Regions from separate parts of the Homo sapiens genome. Here regions 2, 3 and 4 are each reported to be linked to region 1. The links are microRNA targets in miRTarBase. Many come from high-throughput screens and were not tested one by one. Region 1 holds a microRNA gene; each other region holds the end of a gene's coding sequence.
Evidence for each region. The annotated mature microRNA hsa-miR-181a-5p reads AACAUUCAACGCUGUCGGUGAGU and lies in region 1 at 3,842-3,864, opposite strand. An mRNA with a match to its seed (bases 2 to 7 or 8) in the 3' UTR can be bound and repressed. Matches are read on the target gene's strand: a 7mer-m8 pairs with bases 2 to 8, a 7mer-A1 pairs with bases 2 to 7 and ends in A, and an 8mer does both.

Region 2: the mRNA of PCDHA7 is a reported target of hsa-miR-181a-5p. Seed matches in the 3' UTR shown: 7mer-m8 at 4,326-4,332 and 8mer at 4,277-4,284.
Region 3: the mRNA of PNRC2 is a reported target of hsa-miR-181a-5p. Seed matches in the 3' UTR shown: 8mer at 2,210-2,217 and 7mer-m8 at 2,879-2,885.
Region 4: the mRNA of CIAO2A is a reported target of hsa-miR-181a-5p. The part of its 3' UTR that is shown has no 7-base or 8-base seed match.

The regions. Positions count from the first base shown.
Region 1 is chr9:124,689,221-124,696,343 of GRCh38, reverse strand. It overlaps MIR181A2 (microRNA 181a-2), which reads right to left and starts at 3,902; the gene lies at 3,793-3,902. The region is part of intron 2 of NR6A1 (nuclear receptor subfamily 6 group A member 1); the gene reads left to right. The region is part of intron 1 of MIR181A2HG (MIR181A2 host gene); the gene reads right to left. MIR181B2 (microRNA 181b-2) reads right to left here and starts at 2,634; the gene lies at 2,546-2,634. RefSeq lists an enhancer at 777-1,322.
Region 2 is chr5:141,008,621-141,015,743 of GRCh38, reverse strand. PCDHA7 (protocadherin alpha 7) reads right to left here. Exons shown (of 4, transcript NM_018910.3): 4 at 3,397-6,117. The coding sequence ends at 5,807. It overlaps PCDHA1 (protocadherin alpha 1), which reads right to left. Exons shown (of 4, transcript NM_018900.4): 4 at 3,397-6,117. The coding sequence ends at 5,807. PCDHA2 (protocadherin alpha 2) reads right to left here. Exons shown (of 4, transcript NM_018905.3): 4 at 3,397-6,117. The coding sequence ends at 5,807. PCDHA3 (protocadherin alpha 3) reads right to left here. Exons shown (of 4, transcript NM_018906.3): 4 at 3,397-6,117. The coding sequence ends at 5,807. It also overlaps PCDHA4, PCDHA5, PCDHA6, PCDHA8, PCDHA9 and PCDHA10, and 7 more genes. Among named protein-coding and RNA genes, the nearest start is that of PCDHB1, 39 kb to the left of the region's middle.
Region 3 is chr1:23,960,524-23,967,646 of GRCh38, forward strand. It overlaps PNRC2 (proline rich nuclear receptor coactivator 2), which reads left to right. Exons shown (of 3, transcript NM_017761.4): 2 at 406-611; 3 at 917-2,939. The coding sequence starts at 935. The coding sequence ends at 1,354. It overlaps SRSF10 (serine and arginine rich splicing factor 10), which reads right to left. Exons shown (of 6, transcript NM_054016.4): 6 at 3,824-7,123. Among named protein-coding and RNA genes, the nearest start is that of PNRC2, 4.3 kb to the left of the region's middle.
Region 4 is chr15:64,066,237-64,073,359 of GRCh38, reverse strand. CIAO2A (cytosolic iron-sulfur assembly component 2A) reads left to right here. Exons shown (of 5, transcript NM_032231.7): 5 at 332-795. The coding sequence ends at 429. Among named protein-coding and RNA genes, the nearest start is that of DAPK2, 23 kb to the right of the region's middle.

The sequences.
Region 1 (7,123 bases):
TTCCTTTCATTCCATTCCTGTTGACTCAGTTCTACCCCTGCTAACTTGTGCAAGAAAGTTCTCTTTTTTCTCTTTTCTTCCCCTCACTTCATCTGCTTAGTGACTCTTCCCAGTCTTGCTTTCATTGTCTCCTTGCTGAGTTTAGCATTTAAAACGGCTCTCTGTTGGACTAATTGACTTTGCGCCTTGCTCACAAGTCCTTCTGTAATATGTCCTTTTACCTTTTCAGTGCCATTCCTTATGACTCCCTAATACAGTCTCTGGACTATTCTCTTCCTGTCCCCTATACATGCCATGTAATTTTTCTGTTACAGGTATTTATTTTGAGGCCTATCTGCAGAAAACACCCTTTAACTTACATAATTGTCTCCCTTCTTGTAGTACTTAGTTTTATCCAAGAGAAAACTTGGATTTGGTTTAATGAAATATATAATTGTTTCATTGGCATATTTAAAGACTATGTAATAGTCTGTAAATAAATAGCATGCTTGTTCAAGTGTACATTTTTCAAAGTACGTGTCAGACATTCTTTTCTAATGTTTTCAGAAATTTTGGAAATAATTGGTTAAAAATAAATGCCTAGAATGCACAGCATCTTGAAAAACAAGACTGCGTGGAGTACCTTCTGTGTGTCTACCAGTCTCACAAAAAACTCTTCTATAAAGACCCCCTCGGGCCGGGCGCGGTGACTCATGCCTATAATCCCAGCAATTTGGGCGGCCGAGGCGGGCGGATCACTTGAGGTCAGGAGTCTGAGACCAGCCTGGCCAACATGGCTCTACTAAAAACACATTTCTTCTAAAAACACAAAAATTGACTGGGTGTGGTGGCGGGCCAGCTACTTGAGAGGCTGAGGCACGAGAATCACTTGAACCCAGGAAGCAGAGGTTGCAGTGAGCCGAGATCGCATCACTGTACTCCAGCCTGGGAAACAGAGCAAGACTGTCTCAAAAAAACAAACAAACGAAAGAAAAACACACACAAAAAAACCTTTTGGTAATTTCTTTGGGTAGGTTTTAGTTTTTTAGATAGCGTAAATCCAAATCCATTCATTTCCATAAAACATCAGACACAATTTGATGTATATTTGGCCACCAAACATGGTGCAAAATTTTATGTAGTCTGGAGATACTTAAAAGCAGCACAAATGTGACTCTACCTGTCTGCACTCAGCAGAATAGTGGCGATTTCAGGTGGTGACACAAAAGGTTGGGCAATAGTTGAAAAGTGGATGACATGAAATGTGGTGGTGGGATGGGGGCAGGAAGCCGATGTTAAGCTAGTGAACTTTATTTACTTTGCTTCCAGCTTCCAGTGACCCAAAATCACCTCGTCTAGAGTAGGGCTCAGGAATTTGCCATTTTAAAAGCAACTCTAGATGATTCTGGTGTACAAGAAGTTTGGGAAACACTGGCTTGAACCTGATATTTTCTCTGAACTCTCATAGTTTTCTTTAGATTTTTCTTTTGGCTTTGATTTCTCTTTCTGGTTCTTGTCTCATTACCCCATCACTTCTCCTTCCTAATTTGACAGGAAAGCCTTGTCAAATTAAGGCTTGCTTAATTGTCAAGGCTAATTTGACAAGACTCTTCTCTTACTGTCTTATTTGACTTTTGCTATGAGAATCTGCTTCTTCTTAGACTTAAGTGTATGATAAATTATTCATGACCAAGGGCCTTGTTTTTCTTTCTTTAACATGGGATTTAGTGGCTTATCTCATGTTACAGGATTTAGAGAGTTGATACTACATTTAAATTTTTTGTTAAGAAAAATGTACATCTTCTATCTCACTTAGGTGTTTTTCCTGTTTGAGGGACATGGTTTGCAAAGGTTAGAATGAATGAGCCTCATAGTTTTTGTCAAAAGAGAATATTGATGTACATCTGAATAATAACCAGAACATTCATATTAAGTCATACTATATAGCCATTTAAAAGAATGACGAGTACATAAAAGACTGTTGTGGAAGTCTATGATATATAGCTGAATAACAAAATAGATTATAGAACAATAGGTAAAAATGAGCTTATTTTTGTCTAAGCCACTCTCCCCCCAAAACATGCAAAATTACAGCTATTTATCTGTGTATGTATGGATAAAGGTCTTCAAGGATATAAAATAAATTCTAGTTATGATATTTATTATCTTAATAAGTTTATTATAATTATACATGTTTTCCTCCGAGGAAATGGATTGCAGATGATGATTGAAGGGATTTTCAATTTTTACTTTGTATATTTTTGTATTTGAATTTCTAAATAATAAGCATATGATTCTGTTTAGAAATTCTGAATGTACTGATTTTTAAAATGTGATGTGATATCCAGATATGTATTTAATTCTTCCTATAAAATATCATTTCCTTAAATCTAGACTATTGAAAAAGGAGAAAAGTACTAGGAATTTAGAGAACTTACTCCATGTTAGAACCAAGGAGAACAAGAAAAGCTTTAGCTAGTGTTTTGGAAATAGTAGCAGCTCCCACTCACAGCAGTAGCTGCTGCACTCAGGCGACTCTCTGCACATGCTTTTGCTTCCTTTGGGTTGTTTGGTCCGCAGTTTGCATTCATTGATCAGTGAGTTGATTCAGACTCAAACCCACCGACAGCAATGAATGTTGAGTGCAGCCATCAGTGTTTTCAGTTGGTGGGGTTGCCTTTGCCCTCCCTGGCTGACTCCTGGCTCTTCTTTTCCATCTCAGTTCTTTGAAGTCTGTGTGTCTGGCTTCTCCCTTAGTAACCAGCCATCTGCATGATTGAGGGCCCACACAGGTGTCCATAACATTGACATTGGAGCTGGGAGGTTATTGCAGATGAGGAAGCTGTGGTTCAGAGAAGGAAGGAGTGCTTGGAGAACCTCACAGGTAGCACTGCGCCACACAGGCAGTGCTTGCATATTAGTACCTGTAAACCACAGCTGAGGGACCTGCTTTTCCTCTTTGTTTTGAACTGAGAAGTATGAGTGCTTTTTTGAGGTAAATTAGCAGATTATGTTGGAGTTTAATAATAACAGCTTACATATATTGAGCATTTGCTGTGGGCTAGTAATGGTACAAAGCACCTTATATATTATCTCATTGAGTCTCAAAACTCCATGATAGGTACTCTTAGCCTCTGTTTTATATGTGAGAAAACTGAGACACTTGCTTAGGGGGTCAAATAACTAGTTAAGGGCTTGAGCCAAGATTCATCCCAGATCTGACTGACTCCAGGGCTAAGTTTTTGCTTGAATTTAGCAAACATTTAAATAAGCATATGTGGGGATATGTGGGCACTAGTAAGGCAATAGCTCATGCTCTAACTGGGATATCAAAAATTAACCATATTAACTATAATTCAAAGTGAAATGTGATAAGAACTGTCACAATTGGATAATTTTGTGCTATTTTTGCTTATTAAATCCTCCCCTTGCCCCTAATTAAAAATTTTGAGAGGATGTGGGAGAAATGGGAGTAATTATTTAACTGGATTTTATTCCAAAACAAAATACGTATTTTTAATAAATTTTTACTTGCTACGTCCTGTTTCTCACCAGAATGGTGCATATCTAGGAGACATGTAGGTACATTAGATATCATCATGGACTGCTCCTTACCTTGTTGAAATGAAACACTTTTTTTGTAAAAACAAACAAATAATAATAAAACACACAACAGAAAGCAAGGAACAGTGAGCAGTAGGAATAAAATTCACTGGACCACATTTGGGGGATTGCAGGACCATTTCTGGTGAACTCATGTGACATGTGAAGGTACAGCTTGCTCTTTTGCTTCAGGAAATGTAGTGTCGTCTGTAAGGACCCCAAGGTACAGTCAACGGTCAGTGGTTTTTTCAAATCCCAAACTCACCGACAGCGTTGAATGTTCCTTGGAGTCCTCTGAAGGCTGGCCTGATAGCCCTTCTTCATTCTCCCATCCACATCCCAAGAACCAGTGAGCAGTGAGACCACCGCTGATGGATGCTCTTACATTCCTCTCTGGGTTTCAAGTCGAGAGTATTTAAATTATAAAATCAATTTGTGTGCAGCAGAGAACTAATGAACTGTGGGATAGACTGTGCAGTAATTTGTACAAGCAGACTCAAATGAATGTCTGAGAAAATGTCTTTGAATGGTATTATTTTGTGATTCTAAAAATGTAAAATACCTGATTTTGCAGTAGTATTTTAATTGTTAACAAGGGTAAGAGATTAACATATATTGGGGATCTGCTATATACTAGGATTTGTATATTTTATCTCATTAAATTCTCAACAACCCACATTTTCCTGATGAAAAAACTTGAAGTGATTTGCCTAAAGTTACATTGCCAGGAGCCAAGGTTATAAGCCAGAATTTGAATACTGGACTTCATGTTTCCAGTGCTCACTCATCATACTGCTTCTGTTGTCTACTACAGAACTTACTGTTGATATCTAGGAGTAGACCCATCACTGCAGAGCCAAAGTCAAACATGTAAATTTCTTCTACTTGTTTGCCTATAATAATAGCAGGTAGGTCTATAGGTGAGGTCATAGGGGAAGATGAAAAACCTCGACCTCCATGATTGATGATCTCCTTTGCTGAGATCCTGCATTACTAAGTTACCACAGAGGTGTTAGTGATAGTCCACAAGCTATTTTCCATATTGAAAAAGCAAAAAATAAACCAAAAACCCACCACCTAATGTAAAGCTTGCATTTCTTCTTAGTTGAGAACACAGAGTGTAACTAAAATGTCAGATGTCATTTGTTCTGGCTGAAACGATACCAGTACATTATAGGACATAGTGGTTATTTTTGATTCTGTTGAATGTCTGTGATGAAAAATTTGAAAAATGAATTAATAATATGAATCTTCAGAATATGTGATTTACAATGGGACAGATCTAGGAATACTTAATAGGAAAAGGGCTTACAGAACTGCCTGCTGAATTGAAGTTAATCTCTAAATGGGGATAGTTATTACTATTTGCTTTAGGTTTAAATACTAAAGGCTGACTGGTCTCAAATTCATTTTTAAAGCAGCCAAATGGTACACGTTAAAAGAAAAAATATCAACCACTGAGATTTAGGTTTGAATGTAAACTGTTTACCTTCTATATCAGTTTAATTCACCCTCTGTCAAAACTCTGCATTAGCCAGCTTTGTTGAGTTTTCAGTGTTATGACAGTAAATTGTATACACACACAAAAAATCAGGCAACTGTAACTGTGTAATATGTTTAAAACTTTTTAATGGGTTTATTTTAAAAAGTCTTCCTCTTGGTCCAATAATATAAAGCGATGTCAAGCCTTATACTATTTGGATAAATATTTAGACTTTAAAAAAAATACTGATTTTGACTTCACCAAACCTTTAGATGCTTACAAAATATTATTCCTTAAATTCATAGCATTCTAAAAAGAATGCTTTTCACAGACTTGAAAAACTACAGAAAGGTAGGTTTCTGGAATGACATGGGGTGTTGCCCACTGTATTTGAAATAATTGTGTATCATGGCATAATGGCCTTCATCATCCTCATTCCTTTAAGTTCTTTAGTTTTTATCATCAAGCAAGTTTGAGCACACATTTGGGTTTTTTAAGTGAGTTTGGCTAAGGGGTTTATATACTCGGTGCAAGGATAAAGTCTAAGGGTTAAAAAAAGTTAAGGGTTAAATTAGCTAAGAGTGACCAGGCAGGGTGGCACATGTAATCCCAGCACTTTCGGAGGCTGAGGAGGGAGGATTCCTTAAGCCCAAGAGTTTGAGGTTACAGTGAGTTGTGATCCACCACTGCACTCCAGCCTGGGTGACAGAGTGAGAATCTGTCTCTAAAAAAAAAAATTATAGGCTGACATTTAACAAGCCAATCCAACTATTTAACTCTTGATTTAGATTGGTTTTGAGTTTGTTAGAACTCACCATGCCATTCCTTAATTTCACATACCTCCTTTCTTTTCCAGAGAAACCACGAAATATTGGTGGTTTCCAATATTCCAGAGAAACCATGAAATATTGAAACCCACATGTCTCCAACATGGGGATGTAAATGTTTTCATAGTCTTCCTGGGACTTCTTGATATACTTGGAAGAAATAAGCATAAACTCAATAAAACAATGTATCTGGATGATTAGTAGCATGTTTGCTTCAGCAGCACATAACTAAAATTGAGTGATTAGTAGCTAATAGAAGAGGAGTCATCGTCTCAGGTGCCGTCTGCCTAGGTGTTTCCCAAGCACCATGCAGGAAGCATCACTATAAGTGTTTGGGGGTAATGCTGCTAGCCGTGAGGATAAATTCTTAAGTTATGAAGATAACAACAGCATGTCAGTGTGAATTCATGTTTCTTTTTGCCAAACTGTGCTAGTTTTCTGATTCATCCTTTTACTGATTCGGCAGTAGAATCCTAGGGATTGTTTTTCCTGTATATAAAACCCTTGCCATCCTGGAGCCCACTATCTGACTAGGGAGCTACACGTAAATATAACTGATGACAAAGAGGATGCCTGGTGGATTGGTGTGAACTATATTAAGGGAGAACAGAGAAAAGAGGGGTTAATTCTGCCTACAAGTGCCAGGAAAGGTATATCTAAGTAGGTTAACCTGGTTTGAGCTTTAAAAGGTTAGTTGAATTTTTACTAGACAGAGAAAGGGGGCTAATTCCAATGGAAAACCATGTACAGGAAATCTTAGAGGCAGAAATGTTTAGGTAATGGTGAGTAGTGAGATTAATGTCTCAGAGTGTCAGTTAACTCATCTTTAAAATGTGAGACAAATAGCACTTGCCCTTCCTGCACACACAGCCATGAAAATCCAATAAGGTTATGTATCTGAAAGAGCATGCAAATGTAATTGCTTCTCTTGTCTCCCATTGCTTTTGTTTCATATGTGCGAGAATAGAATAAATGAAATACCTTATTATAATAAACTTTTCCAAATTGGATGATTCTTTGGCCTTCTTGCTTTTTTTCCCTTTAAAATGACCATAGTTAAAAAATTTCATGTATTAAATGTTTGGAGAAGCAGTATTTACAGCATAGTAAAGAGCAGATTTTGGAGCCAGAATCGTGACTTTGAATTTTACTAGCTATGTGATCTTTGACAAATTACTTAACCTCTCCATTTCTTTGCTTCCTTATCTATAAAATGGAGATTTATATGTTA
Region 2 (7,123 bases), not on the chromosome of region 1:
TATTGTAAATTAAAAGAAAAATCTACAGGGCAACAAGCATGGCATCATTTTGTTTTTATATAAAAAAGAAAACAGGCTGGGCGCGGTGGCTCATGCCTGTAATCCTAGCACTTTGGGAGGCCGAGGCGGGCAGATCACCTGAGGTCAGGAGTTCGAGACCAGCCTGGCCAACATGGTGAAACCCTGTCTCTACTAAAAATACAAAAGAAATTATCTGGGCCTGGTGGCACACGCCTGTAGTCCCAGCTACTTGGGAGGCTGAGGCAGGAGAATTGCTTGAACCCGGGAGGCAGAGGTTGCAGTGAGCTGAGATCGCACCACTGCACTCTAGCCTAGGCAACAGAGTGAGATCCTGTCTCAAAGAAAAAAAAGGAAAACAATTATTTTTAAAACTATGTGTATGTGATATAAATGTGTGTGTATAGAGAAAAATGCAGAGAAACACATTTGAAATTGTTAAAATTGGATACCCATGTAAGAGAGAATTGAAAGAAGATGGTGAGATTAATAATTTTTCTTTATATATCTCTGGTTTATTTGATTTATTTTAAAGAACACGTATTACCTTTTATAATAAAAATTCAATTTCACATAAAACTAAATAAAGTAAGTCTAGTGAAAGCAAACTCTAAAACGAGAACTGTTGTGTCAGTCTCCCATATATTTATGCTTCGGGTGCCAATTGTTTTAGCTCTGCTCTAAGACCAGCTACTGGCTGAGTGGTTGTCTGACTTGCTCATGTTCTTTGTGGATTGATGATCCCCAAGTCACCCGACAATTGTGTAACCTAACAAAATGCTGGACTTTATGTTTTTCACTACCTACTCTTTCTTATTTCTTTATGCAAACTAGACTCATATTATGAAAGTAAATTTACTAGTGTCCAGCTCAGAGGAGCTTAAGTTCAAAGACAAGGTGATAGACTTTATTAGGCAAAAAACTTTTAAGATTTCATACGTCAGCAGGCATTTCCCAATGGATCAACCCCAAGAGAAAATGGGACCCAGCAAACATTTTACCTGACTGATTATAACAAAAAGGTTGCTATGTACCACTCTTAGGCACAGTTTCAAAAGGAGGACAGCACCATGCTCATTTGCTAAAGCCCCCTCCTAGTTACAGTAAGAACCTCTGTGCATGTGCATGTGTGTCAGCATGTGTGCGTGTGCATGTGTGTGCACGCGTGTGTGCACGTATGACTGTGCGCACGCGTGTGTGTGTGCGCGTGTGTGTGTGTGTGTGCATAAAGCCAGAAGAAATTTCTCAGGTTGCAAGTTGTGTCCTGCCAGCCAACAGTCAAGGTAATTTTGAGGGAAATAACATAATCAGCTTTTTCTACAAGGAAAGGAAGCACATGAAAATATGATGAAATAGGTCAAAGAGTGGCCAACTTATTTCCATTTCCATTTCCTGGAAAAGCTCCAGGGACTGAAAGTCTTGAGGAACTGTATCTGTAGTTTTGTTTGTTTACTTGTTTTATTGTATCTCTTAATGTTTGCATGGTTTTTAAATCTAGATTTAACAGTAAAATTGCATTAGTGTTTGGTCAGTTACATTTGTACTTTAGATTGGGGTTTATAACAAACATAATGTTTATAATTTAAACGTAAAATACATTAACATGAGATCCTGGCACTTACAATCTTACCTAGGAGCCTAAAATTCAAAGCCAAGGCTCTAGACACTCATTGGAGAATCTCATCCTTTAAAATTAGATCAATTGCAATATTTCTAAAGAATGAATCCTGCACTCTGTATATGTGAGACTTATATCAAGTAGCCTGACCCTTGAGAGAGATGCACCTGTCTTGTCCTTTATTGCCTGTGAAATCCCAGGCAAGTCTGTGGGTAATTTGGCATTTCTGTTTTGCTCATCTGCCGAAAGAAGTTGTTGGAGGTGACTCTTCTCTTTCTCTCTCAAGCTGTTGTACTTCAAACCCTTTGGTTTCTGGCTTTCAGATCACCAATAATTGAGGTGAAATAGCTGCAAACAGACTGGCCACTTGACTACTTAGGGATTTGATTATTATTATGATAGAAATAGGTAAGGAGTTATGAAACTGACTTTATTTCTTTTCCTCCTGGGGTGAGCAAAAGAGCGGAGGAGTAAATAAAATATTTTTATTGCCAAGACTATGTTGATTTTTTTGGCCATCCCTCATTCACATTTTAGTCAGTAGGAAAAGTTCCCTGGGTCTAATAGCTAAATCTCTGAAAAGGGGGTAAGGAAATGGAAGAAAAGGATTAATAAATAATAATATTTATTGAGTACTATGGTGTGCCAGACCTGCTAAAACCTTTTAAGATTACCTCACAAATCTATAAGGTCTGTATTATAATTATGACCAGTTTAGAGATGACTGAAAAACTGAGAGAAGTAGTGGTTTGCCTCAAATTCCCCATCTAGTTAGTGGCACAGCTATACCAGTTTATTTATAGAGTCCCTATAAATCCCAGTTAGCCTGGGACAGTCCCAGTTTACATCTTGAATCCTGAAGTAATAACGAATGGTGTCTCCTGTTCCATTTCAAAAGTGGACTACACAAATTATATGGTCACTCTATCTCAAGGTTTCTCAATCTTGATTTGAGACATTGACATGTTGGGCTGTAAGATCCTTTGTTATAGGGGGCTGTCCTGTGCATTGCCAGGTGTTTCACAGCATCGTTGCCCCCTACCCAGTAGATGCCAATAGCACCCTCCACTTCAAGTAATGAAAAGCAACAATGACTTCAGACGTTGCCAAATGTCCCCAGGAGGGCAAAATTGCTCCTAACTGAGAACCTACAGCATCTAAAGCTTATATTTATACAAATTTAACTACAAAAGGACAAAACAATCTATTTGTCACAGCTGAACCTATGCAGTAGTGTGGCTGGCATACACCCTGTACTCAATAAAAGTTATTTCTTTTTGTACAGATGGGATCTCGCTATGCTGCCCAGGCTGATCTTGAACTCCTGGCCTCAAGCCATCCTCTGGCCTTGGCCTTCCAAAGTTCTGAGATTACAGGCAAGAGCCACTATCCCTGACCTAAAAGTTCATTTCTTTGGGGTGTCACTTGGCTTTCCAATTGTAGAGAGGTGCAAGGGCTAAACAAGTAATGAAAAAGATGCCTAGAAGGGCTCTTGTGATAAAAATGGGTTTGTTGCAATTCTTATTAGAGAAAACTGAAATAGTGTAACTACAAAGTGACGCAGCAACCTCCTGGCTGCCCATTCTAATGATATGAAGTTTGAATCTTGATTCCACTGGGGCTTTTGCCTTAGTAATGGACATAAAAGCTAACGTGATAAGAGAGTGTTACAGTGAGTTTCATACTGCAGCAATCTTCTTCAGTATTAATTGCTTATCAGTGTTCTATTTCCTCCTATTCTTAGAAATGACCACCATTTCTTTCATACCACCATTTTCATTTATTAGCAATAACAGAGGAAATACCAATAGCACCAATTCAAAATGAATCCACATGACGTGTTTTATCCTTACAGCTGTAATAACTAGTAACTAACATGGATTGGAAAGCACTTCGCAAATGTAAAAAGTGCTGTACAGATACATTATAATTATCATCATTAATAAATTAGCCCGATTCTCCTAGTTCAAAAGGCACGTAAGGTCAGATACATGGGCTTCAGTGGGGCAAAATGATCACAACCTACAATGTAGCAATGGTTCACATGTGTTGGTAACAAGTTTTACCCCATGCAATCCTGCAGAGCTGAAGTTACACACCCTTCAAAATATGGGAGAATGAAGCTAAAAGTAGACAAGACAGTTTTTTTTTAAATTTAATGCTTTTTTTAAATAACAGACTCCTACCTCTTTTATATTAATGCCTAAATAGATAATATAATTAATCAAACTTCTAAATTGTACATTATAACAAAATTAAAATGTCTTATTTAAGGTGACAGCAAATTTTGTTACTTTCTATGAGCTGATATTTCAGATACCATTAGAATTTCAAAGCATTCTGCAACTTCAAAGAGGTCAGATTGGTAAAATTTGTGCTTGCACACCCTCATGGAATATTGTCAGTATTCATTCCAAAATTGTTACTAGAACAAAACAGCTTTATCCATTCCCTTGCCAGCAGAAGTCTTGGCACGAGATGGCTCTTGGCTGGACCATAAATAAAATTCCTTGAATCACCAGTATCTTGATTTAAGAAAGAAATTTTACTGTGTCTTTCATACACAAAAGCTGATTAACAATGGTTAAAAAAACACTACTCCACTTTTTCACAGGTGTACAAAAGGAAATATAATGGAATTACATTCAACAATAAAGCTTAAAGTTCACTCTAGGTAATAGTTGCATTAACATTCACATACACAAGCACAGAGTAAGTATATTTCAGGAGTCTTAGCATAGCATACAGCATACATATGGGAGATTGATTTCAGGTAACATCATAGGTGTTAGTAAGATTAGCAATTCAGAGTGTTATAGAAAAGGAAAACTAAACCAAAGAGAAGGTGTAGGCTAGCACACCAAGACAAGTCACAGAATTAGTAGATTGAAAAATCTGCTCACTGTATGAGAAAACAATATTTTTCTTCAATTTTTGGGTCTTGATATATAGTTGGTTAGAGAAGGTTGTGTATCAAAGTGCACATAATTGTTTCTTAGAAAAGAGAGAGAGAGAGAGAAAGAGAGATCATTTTATTTAGTAATACATGCAAGAGGCAGCCCCAGAGTGACCTGAAAGAGTAAAGCTGTGATTGGCAGGTGGCCGATATAATACAGATGTTTCAGGCAATTCTCTTAAAGCACTTCTGTAGCAGCAATGATCATTTAAATGGCTGTAGACTGAATTCTCTTTTGAGGAGAGTTTAGGGGAATTGTATTCATATTTCTCTTTAAAGATTTATAGCTATAGACTTTCTCTTTTTTTAAATAAATCTATGAAACAACAAACAGCGAAAGGTGAGGTGTCGGGGTTTTCTTTTGCTTTTGCATAAGTATTGGAAAAGGATCTGGCCTTTTCATAAACATTGTGTGCAAAAGAATTTTTAATAAAGTGAGCACAGGACATGTATAGGAAACACATCAGATCTGCTTCTGTTTCCCAGGGTGGTTCTCTGTTAAAACACTGAACTGTTGGCTTGCAGGTATGATGCAGATTTTAGGTATAATGACGTCACAGCCAACAGACTTTAGGGTCTCCTAAAGCCTTGTCAGTGGGGGTAGTTTTGTCTCCTAGAGGGTGGCTGCCACCTCTTGAGTTGTAAGATTTAGAAAGTCTGGTCCCTTTAAGTTTACACTTCCCCTCCATACTGATAACTTCCGCTGTTTATTTGTCTTTGTTTTCTTGCCTTCCTTGTACCAATTAGTCTAAGCTGGCTCGTCTCAGCCAATATCTGGCACTCGCATACCCGCGGTAGCCACACATACCCAGTGGCCACAAACTCCCAAGCTGCTCAATCTCAAAACTTTTCAGCCTGCCCTGCAAGTGTCATCAAGACAGGATCCCCGGAGCACAGGGCAGAGAGTCCAACCTCTCACTGGCGGGGCTGGGAAGCCTCTCCTTTGCGGCGGAGGAGAAAGGAAACTTGGGTCTGCTTTTTAGGTTCTGAAAACAAGCCAGAGTGGAGAGAAAGAGTTAACACCAGACTTAGTAAAGCTTTTACGACAAAACCTGTTAAATGCGTTCTAGACAGACACAGGGAACTTTCTGCAGATTTCTGAGGTCTCTAAGAGGGCTCATGTAGATAGGAAAAAGGAGCAGGGAATTGCTACATGGGAGAGATTTGCCATTATTACAAAAACTGGCTAAGTGGCTTGTTTCCATTTGAGGACCTCACTGGTCACTGTTGTCAGTCGTGCTGTTCCCTTTCTCTTTTTTCTCCTGGGTCTTGTTACCCTTCTTCTTTTTCTTCTTTTTCTTGGTCTCCTCCTTTTTGCCGAAGGTTATGAAGTCACTTTTGTCAATTTGGCTGTTAGTAGGCTCCTGCCGGATGGAGATGATTGCAGGAGATCCTGGGATAATGAATTTGTCGGGCAACTCACCGGGACCGGATTGTTTGGGGTTGCCTGGTCCGTATTTAAAGGTCCAGCTGTTGCTGTTGACACCCGCACCGACTGGAGGGGACACTTCTCCTGCCTCTGGTTCTGAAAGACAAAACATTACAAATCATTAACAGGGTCAACACATGCTCTTGATGCCACACTGCTGGTAGAGTACAGGAGTACTGCATAGGCAGGCTGAACCTCCCCAGAAAAATCACGAGTTGTTTGTTCAAGTCTGAGGGCAAGGCAAGTGTTTACTTATTTATTTATTTGTTTAATTTTTTTGAGACAGGATTTCCCTCTGTCACCCAGGCTGAAATGCAGTCACTGCAGCCTCGACCTCCTGTGCTCAATCAATCCTCCCATCTTAGCCTCCCAAGTAGCTGGAACTACAGGCACAAGCTCCCATGCCAGGCTAGCTTTTTAAAAAAAATTTTATAGAAATGGGATCTCACTATGTTGCCCAGGCTGGTCTCAAACACTGAAGCTCAAGAGATCCTCCCACCTTGGCCTCCCAAAGTGTTGGAATCATAGACATGAGCTACCACACCCAGCCAAGGCCAGTATTTACAGACAAGCAAGAGGGCAGGTTTTTTCACCAGGATACCAAGAATCTAGTTTCATAGTAACATATGTTTGGTTCTTTGTGAAGAATTTCCTAAAGAATACAGTTGTGATTATCTTGACTGGGAACGGGATGGGAAATACAGAGCCTAAAGGCAAAATATGCTCCTTTTAGTGTCTAGATTAAACTTTGGCTATAAATGTATTAGGATGTCTATTTTGTCCAAAACAAGAAAAATTAGCTGAATAAATTATTTGATCTTAATTTTATTGTAATAACATTGAAGGGTGGTGGGATGCAGCATGGAAGAGATGGGAATACACAGCGTAAGAGGATGGAATCCTGTTGTAAATTGAGCCTATTTGTTTAGATAAAACACTGGGAGCCAATTTTACTTTCCAAGCCAAATTCCTTCCCTCAGTGTGCTCACAGTCTAGTTGGACATACACTCAAGCAACTAGAAACCAACTTAATACATGCAATAACTAAAGTATATGTAAAGTATTGTGGGACTCCAGAAGAAGAAATTGTTAATTATACTTG
Region 3 (7,123 bases), not on the chromosome of region 1:
GACATGTGTGGAAAGATTGGAAAATTCTGGTGGGAGTTTAAAAACACGGTCTCTTTAGAAAATCCGCCTGAAGCCAATTTTTTGATATGACTCAACATTTAACACTTCCTTGATTTTATACGCGAGAGAATCTGAAGGTCTTTCCCAGGAAAAAGATAAAGATAAAACTTATTGCGGGACTTGGAGACACTTACAAAAATTCCCCAGGAGTGACTGGATCTCAAGGGTGAAGAGTTTTTTTAAATGGTCGTGGTTATAAGGTCAAAGAAAGCCATCTTACGAGAAATTTTCTACCTTTTAGTTCAGGAAGTAGCCTTCTTTACAGTCAACGATTTTCGTAGTAAATCTAAATGATCACTTTCTCAACGTGTTTTTGAAATAATGAAGTAATCTTTACTTTTCTAGCTAGGACTTCTCTCAAACTTGTGTGCTGAGGAGACTCAGATGTTGGCCTCAGCTCCTAGGCTGAACTCAGCAGATCGGCCCATGAAAACTTCTGTATTGAGACAAAGGAAGGGATCTGTCAGAAAGCAACACTTGTTATCTTGGGCTTGGCAGCAAGGAAGAGGACAGGTAGTGGAGATCCTGCAATCTGAAAAGCAGACTGAAAGGTAATCATCATAATGGGCAAACATTTTATGATGGAACCATCCTAAACCAATTGTTTTTATTTTAAAATAGATTATGTAGATTTGTGGGTAAGCTCATTTTTCTTAGGGAAGGTATAACAATAAAGGTTGTGCATATATTGAAGTCTGAACGGCTTGCTTTTTTGAGTTTAAAGCAGCTGAATAGCCTGTTATTGAGTCTTGTCCAAAATATCTGGAGTTATAAGTTGGAGCCATAGAAGCTTCTTAAAGATTTTGAACTTTTCTTAATGGAATTTTACTCAATATTTGTTTCCATTCACTTGTAGGTGACAAAGAAGCTGAAGATGGGTGGTGGAGAGAGGTATAACATTCCAGCCCCTCAATCTAGAAATGTTAGTAAGAACCAACAACAGCTTAACAGACAGAAGACCAAGGAACAGAATTCCCAGATGAAGATTGTTCATAAGAAAAAAGAAAGAGGACATGGTTATAACTCATCAGCAGCTGCCTGGCAGGCCATGCAAAATGGGGGGAAGAACAAAAATTTTCCAAATAATCAAAGTTGGAATTCTAGCTTATCAGGTCCCAGGTTACTTTTTAAATCTCAAGCTAATCAGAACTATGCTGGTGCCAAATTTAGTGAGCCGCCATCACCAAGTGTTCTTCCCAAACCACCAAGCCACTGGGTCCCTGTTTCCTTTAATCCTTCAGATAAGGAAATAATGACATTTCAACTTAAAACCTTACTTAAAGTACAGGTATAAAATAAGACAAATGTTTAAATTTAGTTATGTTCACGGATAGTTGTCAATTGGTCTGAAACAAATTCGCTAGGGAATCTATTTGTGTAGAACTAATTAATGTAAAAAAAATAGACCATCTCGTGTTGTGTGCACTGTGATATAATGGTAGTATCAGTGCAACTTAAACTAATGATTGTACTTGATATTAAGTGTTCTCAACTGAGTAACTTTTAAGTGGAAACCAAGTTTAGATTTGGGGAGTGGTAAAGGAATCAGCTTTTTCTATTGTTAGGGGAAGACAGTAATTTATCATTCATGGACCAGTAGATTGTTGAAAGTTGGTGAATCGGATTATAAGCTTCTAGCTAACACAAGGATTCAGAATTAGGTAAACATCTGAAGGTTTAGTATATTAGAAACACCCAAACCAGTAATATGCTAACCTGATGCACTGCTGAAAGAAAATGTGAATTTTTCGTAATAATTGCATTTTAGTGAATTGTACAGTGGGTGGAAAGGGCATTTGGAGCTCATTAGAATGAGACATAGTACACCCCAATGGCCCTGTTTATTAAATGTAGTGGATTAAGTGTCTGTCAACAAATACACCAAAACCATTTTTTATAGAAACAGTATTTAATGGTCACTCAATAGCTTTCAAAATACATTTTTGTATTACAGCACTGCACAAGCTATTCTAATAGTGCTCTGGCCTCATCATTCCTGCAAAGCTTGCTTTGGGGAGTTGGATAATGTGAAAATTTTAAGTACCTAGGGGAGAAAGAGCCATGTAAATATCTGTAATAAACTTGTAGCATATGTAAAGTTTTCTTGGCCTTTATCTTACAAAAATGGAGTATTTTAGTATGAATTTGCTGAATGTAAGACCGTGGACTGTTTTTTATAATATGGCCTAATTTTAAAGGTCCAAAATAACTTGTTTTTAAAGTTTGCCCTTGTGCTAAAGTGCCAGTGTATGTATGTTATACTTGATTTGGTTGTAAACTATATTTCAAAGTAAACCCTAGTGTAATAAGTTTTATAACTAAAAAGGTTTAAGCTGCTAAAACTATTTTTAAGAGATGTGAAATGCAGTATGGGACTATCTTTTTTTCCTCCTCTAAGCCCAAAGATTAACTAGAGTCCCTCCAACCTTATAGATTGTTGGCTTTCACAATCTTATAACCTAGGATACAGGTAGTTTCGAGTATGGTGCCAGTGATGTTTTGTTTTTGTTTGGTCAAGGGGTAGGTGCAACCCAATGGACCACTTATGCAAAAGATGTAAACTCTTGCATAATACATTGATAACATGTTTTGCCAACTTTAAATGCTTAAACATAAGCGAAACCAGTAGCAAGTATGTGGGTCAGCTTAAAAATTTTGATTGTTAATGCCCTATTTTCTAATTTGGCACCTCTTGATGCCTAAGCAGGTAAGCAGATGCCTAAGCTGTATTTCTCCAAATAAATCAAGATGAAGTACTGCCCAAGTTAAATATTGATAGCCTAAAGACAAGTTTATGTAGTACTTAATGTACATGATATGAATGTGAAGCATAAAATTAAATAAAATTTTTCCCCATTGGCTTGGTTTTATTTTAAAAATGGTTTTGATTGCTTAATATTCTTTTTAAAAATGTGTTTTACTTGTCACTGACTTGAAGCTCATAATACACTCACAATATTCCAAACTCTTGGATTTCTCAGACTCCAGAACTATGAACCACTACATTTCTGATCATATATATATACGTATATATAAAAAAGGTCACAACTAAAATGTGATAGGACTGTTGGCTTGAAAAGGGGCAACTAGTTTGCTGACTGATACAGAAGATACTAGGATTTGACAGCTATGCAGTTAAGCAACTACTTAGGATTTCTCTCTCCCAGTAGTGTTAATTAAAAAGCAAAAAAAAGGCCACACATGGAAAACATCGCAAAGCTTTTGAAAGTTAATTCCATGATCTAGGTTCATAGAAAAAAAATTATAAGCAAATTTATCAAGTTGACAAGAACCCTTGTGTTTTAAGTATGTTGACAAATGAAAAGTATATAAGGGGACCCCTCAGAAGAAAAGCATCACAACCACACCTTTCTGATACAGATTCCAAATGATAGGGCATCTTAAAACTAGTTTGAGTAATCCTTAAAATGCTACAACTAGTCCCATGGCAAAGCTGTATTATTTTCATGCAAACTAGTTAACAATTTGGAGTTAAGGCAGAACCAGCATTTGGGTGTTCATTTTGTTTCCAGGGTAATTTCTGTGAACAATGCCAAGGATTGCAGAATTGAACTTCATGTATTGGACAAATCTCAGCCTAGGTGTCTGTTAGTTTTTAAGCTATATATTGAATCTAGTGTATATATTGAATACACTAGATTTTTAGTGACTAATCTAGTAATACACTAGATTTTTGGTTTGACTCAAGCAAAATGAGTAAATGGAAGTGGGAGTGGAAGATTACCTAACTTCATACTTTAGGAAAGGTACTGATAAAAGTTTTGGTTAGCCTATATAGAGAATGGTGATAGGAATTTCCCAAGTCGATGCAATTGCGAGAACCAAAAATAGCTGGTACAGAGAACTTACCATGTAAGGCTGCTGAAGTCAGCCATACTGTGAACCTTAGGTAAATGCTGTAATTTCAATTTGTCTTCTTTTCGATGGCAGTTATACTATGATGGAATCCAGGTCCAAAACCTATCCTTAAGCTTAAAATAAATACTAATAAACTATCCTCTTCCCTAGAACTACAACACAGGAAAAAACCTGAAAGGTTTTGTGTAAGTTTCAGTTTCTAGTATTTTGGTTGCATTCTTGTAGGCAATTTGTAAAGCAAGAGGGACAGAGTGCATCTCTAAAACCTCTTACACAAATTAGGAAAAAGTTGTACCCAGGTGGTTACAAATCTAAGAGCAAAATCTTAAAAAAACCCAAGATTTATTTTTGGCTCCTAGACCAGTTTATTTCACTTTCCAGCATTCAAAGAAATGTGATCTGCAAAAAACTAGATACAAAGGCCTTTTACTTCTTTACAAACTACGGTTAGTTCTCAATGAATTTACATGCCTCACTTTTTATTCCAAGAAAAATCCCCATTATGCAATACAAGGGTGAAACAGCTGTTACAAATACACAGAAACATAATAAAGATAACCAACACTGTTAAGAGGAAGGGGAAGAGGAAAAAACCCAAGAGAAGGAAACTTTTCCACAGTGACTAGCAGAATGTCTTGTAGATAGCAATAACCGAAGACAAACAGGTTGCTCACTTCATCCTATTTATCAAGTCATCCTATCTAAAATGAGAATAGTTCATGCCTAGGATAGGCTAACTATAGGCTTTGCTAGTCCTCCTTCCTAATAGAATGCCCTCAGATTATTCCTGAGCTATCACTCAAGTCACAGATACTTCAGAATATAATCTTAGGTTTTGTAAACAGGAACATGGTCAAAATGCAATACAATGGAAAATCTCTACAAGAGAATGAGATTTGGAAAGCCATGCTTAGAGTCTCTGAGCCACACAACCATAAGATCTTCGAGTACGTTTAATCTCTCATCCAGGAACATTATCCATTTACCTTGTAAGGTTGTGAGAAATGAATAGCATAATATGCAAGAAGCTATCACATGATGGGTATTCTACAAAGGACAATTTTCTCATCTGTAAAATGGGAATAATACCCATTTCCCAGGAGTGTTTTTAGGATTAAATAGAAATATTTGAAAAGCACATGGTTCGGCACAGTAAGTGCTCAATAATATTGACAGCATTCAGTATAGAGAGAAACAACCACAGAAGAGATCCTAAAGCAATTCATTCAACAGATGCAAAAATTAAAGGGCCTTTTCTGATTTACCATAATTAAATATTTTAGAGAACTACCAACTGTTGTTATTGTAGTTATATATGTATTTACCTAATTTTTTTTAAACAAAACCCCAACTCAATATGCACCTTAATTCTCCCCCTTAAATGTCTTAACTTCAAAAGGAAATGGAGAAGGGAGGTAGAGGGCAAAAAAGTCTATAGCCTCTACATATTCTTTTAAAAATACATAGAACCTCTGTCCATAAGAACCCCTATGTTAATGAGTGTATAACGGTATACAACAAAATACTTTTTGTAATTAAATCTAGTCACTTTGACTCTAAGTAAATTCTAGATCCCATTATATCAATGTTACTATCTCCATGAAAATAAAGCTATAAAAACACTTCCCCATTGGATTAAACAACAAACATGGTAACAAAAGATGAAACAAGTGAAAAATTATGGGCTGTAACCTAGGATCTGACACTTGCTGTGTGATCTTGGGCAAGTTCAAACAAAATTTCTAAAATAAAATACAAACAATAATACCTCCATTTCACACCTCCCTTGAAAATATACCTCTGCTATATTTTCAAAATTGCTACAAATTAAAAGCTTAAATTCCACTTCCAGATTTTTAGTTAATTTTATATGGAAAATTTTAAGTATGTGGCAAAAAAGATGACAAAAATCAAATGTGATGAAATCAATGTATAGGTAAAGAAACATCATATCCTAATAAGAAACTAAGGAATCCAAAACATTTTGTGATACTATAAAAGTTATTTATTCGCTATACACAGAACATGTCCCCTATAAAATGTACATGTAAATCACTAAAAAGTATAATTTGGTGAACATTTTCTCAATTACAGAACATACTAAATCAGTTAGGATAACAGCTCTCTGTCTGCCTCAAAATAATCTAATTATAGCACCCAGTCTCCTTTATACCTAATGCAAAGTTAAATACTTATTTTGGGGGTTATATCCTAGCATGTGTTTGGTGAGGCAGAGTAAACAATTTATTATAACTCTAGTATATTACAGTCACTGCACAATAAACCAGTTTATTACAGATTAAATCATTTTTTCATTATTTATAATAATGTGATCAAATACTGGATACTTTTAAATGGCAGATAACCACACAATTACTTATCCTTGATCGTATATTGTGTTCTATAATTACATTGATACGAATGGTGTAAAATATTGTTATGAATAACACACCTCAAACAAAACAATGAGGCCATACTGTAATGATTCACTAGATTGTGCTCAGTAGACATTTACTGAATAAGGGAATTATCTATTTTTCTCAATTATCCAGTACAATGATTTGCCCACAGTAAGGGCTCAATAAATATTTGCTGAATATACTGACTAGGAAAGAGGTGAGAAGAGATGGGCCCTCTTAGCTGGATGTCAAATATAATTGGAATTTACCTGGGAAGGAGTAGTTAAGACAGATGTAAACTGCATGTGGTGTACAAGTAAATAAACACAGATGCCAACAAAGCAAATGATTAAGCAGAAAACACTGGCACCAAAATAAACAAAGGCAAGATTTGCCAATAATGGCAAAAATGGAACTTTTATATTGGACCATACCTTTTCCCACCCAATTCAGTTTGAGACAGACCAACAGAGGCACTGTAAGAGACTATGGCTGTCTTCCTTGATATTCAGACATCCTAGTTTCCAATAATTTATTATGGACCTGTTACCCATGAATCAATATAAACCTATTCATATTTAGGGATTAGTTTCCACAAGTACAAAGTTGAATTTCCTTTTATTTGTCCTAAAATGCTTACTTTCAAACTTGAAGGGACTTCAATTATTCCATGTAGTTTTCGATAACATTCTTTTATCTTTTCAGACCAGAGTCAAAATATTCGTACAGTATTCATACTGCAGCACCTTCCACCCACCCTTTGGTCGCTTGAACTGCCCTTCTTT
Region 4 (7,123 bases), not on the chromosome of region 1:
AAATAACCCTGTAGTTTAAAATATAGGCTTATGGGGGAAAAAATAGCAATTTTCAAAATTATATTTACTCTGAATGTAACTGTATAAAAATATGTGTATGGACAAAGACTGGAAAGAAAAAAATAGATGTGGTTAAGTAGTAGAATTCTAGTAGATATTTTTCTCTTAAGTCTGCCTTCTAGATGGGAAATTACATTATGAGTAATTAGCCAAAAACAGGTTTAAGTTCTCAAGGAGTTAAAGTTTTTGTTTCAGCAGGCTAATAAAAATACTGTCTGGTGCTGTATATTGACACAGTTCTTCTGCTAACTTTTGTCTGTGTATTTTTCAGTCAATAAGCAGATAAATGACAAAGAGCGAGTGGCAGCTGCAATGGAAAACCCCAACTTACGGGAAATTGTGGAACAGTGTGTCCTTGAACCTGACTGATAGCTGTTTTAAGAGCCACTGGCCTGTAATTGTTTGATATATTTGTTTAAACTCTTTGTATAATGTCAGAGACTCATGTTTAATACATAGGTGATTTGTACCTCAGAGTATTTTTTAAAGGATTCTTTCCAAGCGAGATTTAATTATAAGGTAGTACCTAATTTGTTCAATGTATAACATTCTCAGGATTTGTAACACTTAAATGATCAGACAGAATAATATTTTCTAGTTATTATGTGCAAGATGAGTTGCTATTTTTCTGATGCTCATTCTGATACAACTATTTTTCGTGTCAAATATCTACTGTGCCCAAATGTACTCAATTTAAATCATTACTCTGTAAAATAAATAAGCAGATGATTCTTATAATGACTCACTGTTTTTATTGAATTGTAAATTCCAGTGTAAATGTCAACTCCTAAAGGATATCTTCAAAGCTTTATTTTTGCTGATTATTTTGTAGAATCAGAGATCTGAGAACCAAAAGGAACCCTTAAGATTGGGCCTTCCTTCCTTCCAAGGAGAGTCCTGGACCCTTTCATAGATAAGGAACAAATGTGGAGAAGGCTAGATGGCATACACAATTTTGAAGATCAAGAAGTCCACCAAAGAAGTTTTGATTAAACCAACCTAAATGTATGGTCCGCACTTTATCTGTCCTTCATTTGGTTTGTTTTAGGGGTTAATGGTCATGTGAAGTATAGTAGCCTCCAACATGGCCCCCAAGATCCTCACTTCCTGGTATTCATGCCCTTGTATAGTTAACTTCCATATTGAATTGGAGCTGATGGGTGTGGCTAATAAAGAATGGCAGAGTGACAATGGGTGACTTCTGAGGCTAGATCATAAAAGGTATTGCTGTTTTCACCTTAGGCTCTTGGATTGCTTATTCTGTAGGAATCCAGCTGCTATGTCACGAGAACTCAAGCCACCCTGTGGAGAATTCCACACGGAGTGCAGCTGAGGCCTCCCAACAACAACCAGCAGCAATTTGCAAACCATGTGAGTGAACTCCTGATGCAGAACTGCCTAGCTCCCAAAGTCTGGACCCAGGCACTGTCTTGGGTGCCAAGGACACAAAGATACATCAGCCATTGTCTGTCCTCCTGGAGTTCATACTTATTAGCCTGGACCTTCAGCTTCTCTCTGCTCCAGGCAGTGAGTGATTCGGACTCAGTTTTATCTACTGCCTGAGCTCGTCCTGGCCAAGTAGAAACAGAAGCCGGGCAGCAGGTCCAAAGACAAAACCATGCCTTAGGGACTGTCTGGTGAGGACACTACTGACATGCAACTCCAAGTGGATCATTGCTACAGGAGTCACCTGAACTGCTGGCCCTGCTGCTCCTGGAAGCTAGATGTGACTTCTGTTGTCTCCGCTACTGCCAGAGTGATTTCTCATTTTTGTGTGACTCACTCCAGCTTCCTAGTCCTAGCTGAGATCTCTAGTCGGCTGATCTCAAGTCACATGTCCATGTCCTGGCTGCCAAGAAGGCGGGAGAAAAGAAAATCTGACCTTTGGTGTGGGGAGGTGGACTCTGTCCCCCCAGCAAGACTCACATGGTGGGAATTCTATAGTAGAGTGAGAGGGGTCAAAAAACTAACATCTACTGCATTAATTATATTAGAACATGAATTTAAACTTTATTAATCATAATGGTATCTACATAGAAGTGAAAAATAGAGGTACATATATAGTCAGAAGTAGTGTTATCTGGTCCATGTTTGGCAAGGGTTAGGAAACGTTTTTGGAAAAGGGCCACATAGGCAATATTTTAGGCTTTTCAAGCCATATGCTCTGTTGTAACTATTCAACTCTGCCCTTGTAGCACAAAAGCAGCTGATAGTCTGTAAACAAATAAGCATGATTGCACTCCAAGAAAACTTTATGGACACAAATTTGAATTTCATATAATTTTCATGTGTCATGAATTAATATTTTCCTTTTTAATTTTTTCAACCGTTTAAAAATATAAAAACCATCTTAGCTTGTGGGTTGTACAAAATTCCAGCATTGGGCTGGATTTGGCCTGTGTGCCATTAGCAAACTCCTGATTTACAAGAATGATTATCCTTTCTGAAAAGTCAGACCAATTGGAAAATCAGATAAAAGATGTGGAATGGGCCCTCTCCCTAGGGAGAAAAAGGCACTCACATGAAACTGCATGTGACTCCAGGACATTCACAGACTTGCTAAGGAGCCAGTGGACCCCGGGTTAATAACTCTGCTTTACAAGTAATGCTAGCTGAGCACTGGGCTCCCCCCTCCTTTAATAACCCCCCAGAGCCCTGAGGGTTCACAACTTTGGGAGTATAGGGGCAGAAGGTGTGATACCTTTCCTCACCCATCATAAAGGTCATGGCCAACACCCCCGTGACAAAAGACAGGGTAACAAGAGAAAAGCATAACAAATGTGGTCAATCCAAGTTTTATGTGACACAGCAGGCTTCAGATAGGAAGAATCCAAAGACCCAGGGAAAACTGTCTTATTTTTCTGCTTAGGTTTGACGAAGAGTGGACAATTGTGTAGAAATGTGATTGGACAAAAAGTGCGATCTAATGGTAATGGACTAAGTGGGGAAACCCAGCAAGGACTATCTCTTCAGATTCTTCTTGGCCTTTCTGTGTAGCATTCCTTCCTCCTGGGTATGGGGCAGTCTTATGACCTACTGTTAGATAAGGCAGGTCAGAGAATTTCTTTATGGCCAGCTCATGCACAGAAAGGCGGGGGAAAGTTAGAGTAATATTTCTAGGTTTTGTGGTTTGCTTTTTGTTGTTGTTACTGTTTTTGTTTTTGAGATGGTCTTGCTCTGTTGCCCAGGCTGGAGTGCAGTGGCACAATCATGGCTCACTGCAGCCTCAACCTCTCAGGCTCAAGTGATCCTCCCACCCCAACTTCCCAAGTAGCTGGGACCACAGGTGCATACCACCATGCCCAGCTAAATTTTTTTTTGTATTTTTTTGTAGAGATGGGACTTTGCCATGTTTCCCAGACTGGTATGGCTTGCTTTGAAAAGAGGTTCTGGTTTCTATTTCCTCCCTTGGGGAAGACAGATTCTGTTTTCTATGACTCCCTTTGGAGGAGGAAGGGGCAGGAGACAGCAGGGCAGGATATGGTCAGAGAGAGTCTTTGCTTTTGAGGCTGCTTCTGAGGCTTTCTATTCTTCTTTAATTCACAGCACACCAAGGAGCCATATTTTGGGTTATTGCTTTCTGAGCCCCAGTAGGAGCCACTACCTTCTTGTTTTTGCTTTTGAGACAGGGTCGCTCTCTGTCGCCCCTGCTGGAGTGAAAAGGCACCATCAGGGCTCACTGCAGCCTCAAACTACTGGGCTCAAGCAATTGTCCCACCTCAGCCTCCCAAGAAGCTGGGACTACAGATGAGAGCTACCACGCTCAACTAATTATTTATCCACTGCTTTCTTAGACCGTTACAAATAAGAAGCTTATGGCCGGGCGTGGTGGCTTAGGTTGGGTGCAGCGGCTCACGCCTGTAATCCAAGCACTCTGGGAGCCGAGGCGGGTGGATCACGAGGTCAGGAGTTCAAGACCAGCCTGGCCAAGATGGTGAAACCCCATCTCTACTAAAAATACAAAAATTAGCTGGACATGGTGTCACGTGCCTGTAATCCCAGCTACTCGGGAGGCTGAGGCAGAGAATTGCTTAAACCTGGGGGGCGGAGGTTGCAGTGAGCCAAGATTGCGCCACTGCACTCCAGCCTTGGCAACAGAGTGAGATGCTGTCTCAAAAAATAAAGAAAAAAATAAAAGAAAGGAAGAAAAAAAGGAAAAAAAAAAAGCAGCTTTCCCAGCTCCACCATGAAGCAACTGCTACCAAAACTGCAGATGTGTCCAGCAGGACACAATTAACTGTAGTTAGTGGGGGCCAGTTTACTAGGAAGGGGTAGGATTGCTATAAAAGTCTCATTGCACTCATATCCCAGGTGGTTTTCTGCATGTGTTAATACCATGGTAGAAAACAAGCCAGTGAATTGTTGGGGTTCAAACTCATTACTGATGCACCACTACTGTTAATACTCTTTTTTTTTTTTTTTCTGGGACATGGTCTCACTCTGTCACCGGGGCTGGAGTGCAGTGACACGATCATGGCTCTATCTCCCAGGCTCAAGCTATCCACCCGCCCCAGCCTCCCGGGTAGCTGGGACTACAGATGCACGCCACCAAAGCTAGCTAATTTTTAAATTTCTTGTAGAGATGAGGTCTCACTATATTGCCTAGGGGGTCTCAAACTCCTGGGCTCAAGCGATCCTCCCACTTTGGTCTCCCAAAGTGCTGGGATTAAAGGCATGAGTCGCTGTGCTCAGCCACATTATTTCTGATATCTTTTTGTATATATGAAATACAAGTAAAGATTTTTCCAAAAAACTTCATTGGATTTAGCCTGAACTGGTGGTTGTCCATGACTCAGGTTAGACTGCCTATAGGGCATGAGCGAACCCAGTTCTGATATGGACTTATTTGGGGCAGATGTACTGGATGTGGAGAGGATGTTGCTGTATGGGCTGTCAGGTTCTCTCCAAGTGCTGTTAGCACCATGCAGACCCTGGATCCTCTTCACAAAGGATGTGGTCAAGAGCACAGACACTGGTGCCAAACTGCCATCTTGTTCTAATCCAATACTCAGTCACTTAGTAGCTGTGTGACTTTGGGCAAGTTACCTAGCTTCTCTGTATTTTAGTTCCCTCGTTTGTAAAATGGGGATGATAAAATTACCTATTTCGTGGGGCCCTTATGAGGACTAAAAAAGGGAATGCTTGTAAAGTGCTGAGCACAACGCCTGGAACCTAGTAAATGCTTTATTAGGGTTTGTTAAAAATAGAGAAGGCCAGGTGCAGTGACTCACGCCTGTAATCCCAACATTTGGGAGGCCAAGGTGGGCGGATGGCTAGAGCTCAAGAGTTTGAGACCAGCCTAGGCGACATAGCGGGACCCTGTCTGTACAAAAAATCAAAAAATTAGCAGGGCGTGGTGGTGCACACCTGTAGTTCCAGCTACTTGGGGGGCTGAGATGGAAGGATCGCTTGAGGCCAGGATATTGAGGCTGCAGTGAACCCTGATTGCGCCACTGCACTCCCTCCTGGGTGGCAGAGCGAGACCCGCATCTTCCGGGGTAGGGGAGAATAGAGGAAAGGGCTGCTCGGTGCTAACTTGGAGAGTTTTTCCTCTGGGGTGGGTGCGATTATCTGGGAGAACACCAGATGGCAGCAAAGCATTATTTCTTAGTGACAGAGCATACCCACTTGGCATCAGCTGCCCTGGGTTTTCCCAAAGGCCCTGAGGGCACACTCACTGCCCCTCTAACCGGGCTGCACTAAGTGGTACCAGACCACCATGGACTTATTGCAGCCTGTGCCTTTGTTCTGACTGGAGTGATTATCACTGAAGACTTTTTTTTTTTTGAGAGGGAGTCTTGCTCTGTCACCCAGGCTGGAGTGCAGTGATGTGATCTCAGCTCACTGCAACCTTCACCTCCCAGGTTCAACCGATTCTCCTGCCTCAGCCTCCTGAGTAGCTGGGATCACAGGTTCATGCCACCACGTCCAGCTAATTTTTTGTATTTTTAGCAGAGACGGGGTTTCACTGTGTTAGCCAGGATGGCCTCCATCTCCTGACCTAGTGATCTGCCTGCCTCGGCCTCTCAAAGTGCTGGGATTACAGGTGTGAGCCTCGGCACATGGCCCATCACTGAAGACTTTCTTAGATATGGAACTCTTTGCCAAAGATTATGAATGATTTTGAGGCTTTGATACATATTGTTGAATTGGCCTCTGGAGAAATTGTACCAATTGACACCCAACCAAGAGTGGGGTAGGTGTTCCTGTTCTACAGTAATATTGGGTATTATTATTTTAAAAAATATTTGCCCAAGGTGGAGGATTTTGAAAAGGTTTTTCATTAGCATCTATTTGTAAGGTTAAACATGTAGAATTTTTTTTTTTTGAGATAAGAGTCTTTCTCTGTCATCCAGGCTGGAGTGCGGTGGTGCTTTCATACTCACTGCAGCCTCAAACTCCTAGGCTCAAGCAATCCTCCAGCCTTAGCCTCCCGAAGCGCTGGGATAACAGGTGTGAGCCACTGTGCCTGGCCTCTACTGGAATGTTAATGTTTTAAAAAGCTAATTATACAATACAAATATTAGCATTTTCTGTCACATATACTGCAAATATATTTCCTATTTTCTTGTTGTGTAAACATGTTTGACCCTATGTCATGAATGATATGACGATCACAGCATCATTTTTTATCATGAAAAATGTGCAACTTAATGACTAACAACATGTTAGTCATCTGCAGTTTTTTGTTTGTTTAAGATACCAGGATCTTGCTCTGTTGCCCAGGCTGGGGTGCAGTGGCAAGATAATAGCTCACTGTAGCCTCTAACTCTTGGGCTCAAGCAATCCTCCTGTCTCAGCCTCCTGAATAGCTGGGACTACAGGTGCAAGCCACCACACCCAGCTAATTTTTGTGTGTTTGTTTTTTGTAGAGATCAGGTCTTGCTATGTTGCCCAGGCTGGTCTTGAACTCCTGGGCTCAAGTGGTTCTCCCATTTCAGCCTCCCAAGTAGCTGAGATTTTTATATTTTTATTCATTTCTTTCTTTTTTTTTTTTGAGACGGAGTCTTGCTCTGTCGCCCAGGCTGGAGTGCAGTGGTGCAATCTCCACTAACTGCAACAT